Regions from separate parts of the Homo sapiens genome. Here region 2 is linked to region 1. The links come from fine-mapping of genetic effects on gene expression. A gene starts in region 1. The other region holds a variant in brackets. All regions are shown on one strand. Distances are between the middles of the regions. Region 1 holds the start of PLAA (phospholipase A2 activating protein). Region 2 overlaps TEK (TEK receptor tyrosine kinase).

What was found.
Region 2: its variant is fine-mapped to the expression of PLAA in neutrophils (BLUEPRINT, PIP 0.95).

The regions. Positions count from the first base shown.
Region 1 is chr9:26,946,007-26,948,919 of GRCh38, reverse strand. PLAA (phospholipase A2 activating protein) reads left to right here and starts at 1,678. Exons shown (of 14, transcript NM_001031689.3): 1 at 1,678-2,023. The coding sequence starts at 1,875. It also overlaps a transcript of IFT74 not described here. RefSeq lists enhancers at 1,355-1,664, 1,254-1,927, 1,925-2,184, 1,928-2,603.
Region 2 is chr9:27,191,779-27,194,691 of GRCh38, reverse strand. TEK (TEK receptor tyrosine kinase) reads right to left here. Exons shown (of 23, transcript NM_000459.5): 11 at 2,069-2,203. Among named protein-coding and RNA genes, the nearest start is that of TEK, 84 kb to the right of the region's middle. The variant C/G (reference allele first, on the strand shown) is at 1,305.

The DNA of each region.
Region 1 (2,913 bases):
ACATGGAGAGCATACAGCATAATGTGTTCAGGGAATTGTGACAAATTCGAAATGTCTAGAGTAAGAGAGATAACAGAGGGAGATGAATCTAGTAAAACAGATTAGGGAGATTGTGTGAAAGGCCCTATGTAATGCTGTACTATAAGAATGGAAAGCCGGCCAGGCGTGGTGGCTCACGCTTATAATCCAGCACTTTGGAAGGCAGAGGAGGGCAGATTATGAGGTCAAGAGATTGAGACTATCCTGGCCAACATGGTGAAACTCGTTTCTACTAAAAACACAAAATTTAGCTGGGCATGGTGGCGCGCTCCTGTAGTCCCAGCTACTCGGGAGGCTGAGGCAGGAATCGCTTGAACCCGGGAGGCGAGGGTTGCAGTGAGCCGAGATCGCGCCACTGCACTCAGCCTGGCAGCAGAGCGACACTCCGTCTCAAAAAAAAAAAAAAAAAAAAAAAAAAAAAAAAAAAAAAAATAATGGAAAGCCATCACAGGTTGTCAAACAGAGAAAAAACAATTAAGTGTATATTTCAGAAAGATAATTATATTTTAATGTGTAGGATTGGCTGGAGAGAAGGGGTAGAAAGGCCAGAGAAATGTTGAAATAATTTAAGTAGGACTAATTGGTACAGATTTCTAACAGATAGCTAGAAATACAGATCTAGAGTTTGGAGAAGACAATATGGGAATACAGCTCTAGAAATAAGCCAAGTAGTAAATAATCCACCCAGGGAGGGGATATGATAGCAAAGAAGTATCAAAAGTCAGCATTTCAAGAATGATCTCCCAAACCAGGGGAAAAGTGATTCCAAACCTAGAGTAGGAGTTTTAGGAAGGGAGAAGTCAGAAAAGTGTGAATTGGGCTTAGCAATTTAGAAAGGTTTGTGGAAAAGTGTAGTTGGATGCGAGAGAATAGCGGATGGGAAGAAAACAAAGTAAGGAGACAGGTCATGTTTACCCTGGCACTCAATAAGGTCTGATAATGACTAGCAAGTAGCACCACGGGTGGGTGGGCGGCGGGGTTGTTAAAAATACGTATCTCAGCTCTAACTCAGACCTACTGAATCAGAATCTACATTTTAACAAGCCGCCAGAGAAAAGTAGTTATACCTTTAAAAAATTGACTTGGACCACCGTATTTGCTAAATTTGACAACAGAGAGTAGGAGATTCAGATAACTTGAAACGGAGGAATAGTTCAATGATTAATAGTTCCCAATTTGGCCTCAAGCTTTCTCGTTTTAATTGAAAAACAAGGTTAACTTGCAAAAACCTCGAGATTCTCAGGGAAAAGCAGTGAGGATGACCTAACAGTAGACACCAAACAACCTCACTCAGCCATTCCGCCATGCCCAGCGCGAAAGACTCAGGTTTAAAATATCCGGATTCGGCGCGCCGGATGTCCACGCCAGCTGGCGCGGCATTATGGGAATTGTAGTCCCGGCCCGCTTCCCGATTTACCACAAACTGTTGGGCCCGGAGTCGGAAGAGACCCGGGTTTGGGAAGGACCCCAGGGTCAGGCGTCCTGGTGGAAGGGCGGGCCTCTTTCTCTCTTGCTCAGCAGGGAGTCCAGAGCCCTGGAGGAAAGCCAGCTCAGCTCCGCATCGGCGTCGGCGGTTGGGACGCACACACTCTGCGTCATGGAGGGCTGAGGCCGATGATGAATTCCGGAGTGCCTGTCAGGCTTGCTGTGTCACTCGGCCCGCTCGGCGCGCCCCTTCCCAGCCGCCCTTCCGTACCGGCTCTCGGGCTCTTCCGGTCTCCGGCCGCCCCTTACCTGCAGGCTCTTCTCCCGCCGCGGCCCGGCGCTCTCCGAGTCGCCCCTGCGGACTGGTCTCGCACAGTGCCTGGGCACCGGGCGCCAGACAGACACTGGCCATGACGAGCGGCGCAACCAGGTACCGGCTGAGCTGCTCGCTCCGGGGCCACGAGCTGGACGTACGGGGCCTGGTGTGCTGCGCCTATCCGCCGGGAGCCTTTGTGTCCGTGTCCCGAGACCGCACCACCCGCCTCTGGGCCCCAGACAGGTGAGCGCTGGGAGTCGGGTTGCCCCGGCTGTGTTGCACGCTTCCCGGAGAGTGGAAGGAGAGTGACCCTTCCCTGTCAGTCCTGCCGTCTCTCTCTCCCCCCAGCCTTCCCTCTGCTCTCCGCTCCCTTCCAATTCTCAGACTATTAGAACTCTGTAAGAAACCATCGGGATTTAAGTGGAAAGAGCACAGGGTTGGGGGACCAAAGACCTGCCTTGTTGTGCTAACTTGACCACAGACGAGTCTCCTACCTTTTGGGCCTTCAGTTTTTGGACGATGATCTCCCAAGTTTCTTTTAGACTTGAAAATTTACTGATTGCAGTTGCACCCTCCGAAGTGAGGTAGTTTGAAGGCATCTGAAATGTCCTCTTTTTTTTTTTTTTTCGAAGAAGATGCTCTGTAGTCTTCTGTAAAATTTAATTTTTGAAGACTTTAGTTCTCAAAAATTGCACTGGTGAATCCTCTTTTCGTCCAGGTTAGAATTTTAGTCTGTGGTCTGTGCTGGTCCTGAGGGAGTGAAACCTCTCGGATGTTTTGTTTCTGTGCATGTGCTGTTTCTTGAGGAGAAGCAGCATCCATTGCCTTCAAAGGATTTATCAGAAGGGTTCACGAACCAAAAAAAAAAAGAAGAAAAAGGTTAGGAATCAGTCCTGATCGAGTTCACGGGTTCAGCCCTGATTTGGCTGGTTGTAACAGGATATTTAAGACCTAGAAGACAGATTGCAGTTCAGAGAAAGAAAAATTGAGGTTAGTTATTTTGTTATTTAGTAGGTCTCCCACTGCTAGAGATTTTAGAATTTGAGTCACCATCCATAAATTCAGTTGATAACTGTTGAGTGCCTCCTCTTTGTTTGGGATACTGGAGAGGAATAAAGACAGACAAGTTGCCA
Region 2 (2,913 bases), 250 kb before region 1:
CTGAGGGCTGAAGACAGTACAGTGTGGGGCTGTGAAGTGTTTTATGTTCTGTTCCATAAATACTTTCCATCTGAGTCAGTTTATGCTCTTCCCCTCTTGACTCACCAACAGTGACTTGAGAGAGAATTAACTACCATTTGCCTTTTAGCAGTAACATGATGACATATCAGGGATCCCTTGGGTCATGGTTGTAGAGGTCCCTTTTTCCTCTCTATATAGTTTCTGGGTTTATTTTTTATATTCACAACCAGGTGGGTCCCCAAGCAGCCATTTCTTACTTGTGTGTAATGCTTCTATAAGTCTCAGAGTAGCTTTTGAGTCTCATTTGGTTCTTTAAGGATGCTGCTAGTAACATAAAAACTAGGTGGGTGGTGTGAAGGAAGGATGTTTCTGTTAAGGGTGCACAATCTCTGCAGAAGAAAAGTGGATGTTCTTCCTGGTTTTTTCACTCAATCATAACATATCCTTCTACTTTTAGTAAATGGAGTAAAACACAGGCAAATATGTGAACTGGGATAATAAGCTGGTGCCTTTGGGATTCTAGGTAGAAATAATAATTGGAGAAACAAAAGGATATGGAGCCTGGACTGGGAGTGGTGACTCATCCCTGTAATCCTAACACTTTGAGAGGCCAAGGCTGGGGGACTGCTTGAGGCAGGAGTTTAAGACCAGCCTGGGCAACAAAGCAAGACCCCGTCTCTACAAAAAAAATTTTTTGAAGTAGCCAGATGTGGTGGTGTGCCTGTAGTCCCAGCTACTCAGGAAGCTGAGGTGGGAGGATGACTTGAGCCCAGGAGATAGAGGCTGTAATGAGTGTTGATCAAACCACTGCACTCTCCAGCTTGAGTGACAGAGCAAGATCCTGGCTCTAAAAGACAAAGATATGAAGCCCGAAGATTTAGTATGGTGATGCATCTTACTGTTATTAAGTACTCTGAGTCTCTACTTTTCAATCTGTAAAATAGGGAAGATGATAATTCTTACTTTCCTAGGTGATATAAATCAAATATATATGAAGTTGAAAGTATAAAGTACTGACCAAGAGAGAGTAACAGAATGGTTATACACAGTGAACAATTCAAAGAACCAGGAATGGAACCTTACAAAAGATCACTCCAGTATTTCAATGGAGGGTACCTGGGTAACAGAAAGCTGGAGGTCAGGTTAGCATCAAGGAGGCTTCACAGAGTTAATTAACGCAATAGAAGGCCAGTCAATACCAAACACCACTGAGAAGTCCAGAAGTAATTTTACACATGTTATCTAGAACGTGTGGACCCAGGACCAGCAGCATCACTTGGGAA[C/G]CTACTAGAAATGCAAATTTTTGAACCCCGGCCCCATCCTCACCTCAAAACCATTGAATCCGAAACTCTGGGGACGAGGCCCAGAAACATCTTTTAACAAACTCTCTGAGTGATTCTGATGGACACTTAGGTTTGAGAACCACTGATTTAGAAAAGGGAGGTAAATATAAGAAATAGCTTAAGGAGATGAAAGTGGCTACCTATAGGAAGCAGGACTGGGAGGTGGAGGGTGGAGCAGGAGAATGCTGTTCTTTAGATAAAAGCTTCTTATTCTATTTGATGTCATGACTCTGACCATGAATTACTTTGAAAAATTGGAAATTATTTTTGAAAATAAATAAACTGGGACTTCTAAAATATGCCTGTGGCAAGAGCCTGGTCTGGGCCCTTAAGATGGAAACAGGAAGCCAGTGATAAAATGCAGGAGCTGAAGCTCAGCACAGTTGCTGCTGTGTAAATCCCAGCTCCTAGGGGAGGCCCTGCCTTCCTGAAGGCTCATCTGCTTCCTTCTCTGTCCCTACAGAGTGCTGCAGACCTCCTCCCCCAGGGAGACAGACCAGGAGTCCAACCCAAATAAAGGAACAGTTTGGCTTGAAGTTGCTAGCCTTCCTGTCACTTTCCCACCCATTCAAAAGCGAACTCCTGCCACCTCCATCCCCACCCACCCACTCACCCACCACCACCCTTCCTGGTCTTCCTTCCTCTTTCCCCTTCCTCCCCCTCCCACCCAGCTCATGAATAAATGCCTGTTGGCTTCCACTGACCGATAGAAGCTGTTGTGAAGCGTCTCACAGGTCCAGGATGCCCTTCCCCACCCTCTCCACGACGGACCAGTTGCACACAGAGTTCATATTCTGTCCGAGGTTCCAAATAGTTGAGTGTAACAATCTCATTTGTCACTGAGAAGAGAAAACGTCCAGGAAACTTAAGTTGGCATTCTCTTACATTCCTTAAGCCGGGGTTGTTGTTATTGCGATGTGAACTAATTTTAGGTTTTCAAAACTACGTCTTAGTGAAACAGAGAGGCAATTCCATCTTCAAGGCCTCATCCTTCCCAATATGAGGAAAATTAGGCTTTTGAAATGTTTCCAGGTTACAATGTACACATTAAAGTGTGTATTTCTGTGCCACTTACACATTTCTGCTCTGGTGCTTTTGTCTTTTCATTTGTAGAATAAAACCTCACAAATCTATATGGAATACCAGATTGGGGGAATACTCAATTAGAATAATTTAATTGCTACTGTTTTCAAGTATGTACACTGATTGCAATCAAGCTATCGAGAGAAAAAGATGCTTAGGAGGTTTGCTCAAAATGACCAGAAAACTGATTTGCAATGGTCATACTATTACAATGAAGCATTCTGAAGTCCTTGAAAATAGCACCCATAAACAAATGGTATCTGTCTCTTTTCTCCTTACCTATTTGCTTTAGTCAGCCTCTGTTTCTCCATGGATACTGCAAAGATAAATTTCTGCCTTATCATATGATAAATTCCTACTTGGTAAGAAAAAAAACTGGGATGTGTTTAACAGTTCTTAGAAGACCACTTTGTGGATGTCCACTTGTAGACAAAGGTGATGGATTATTACCACCATATGACAGCAA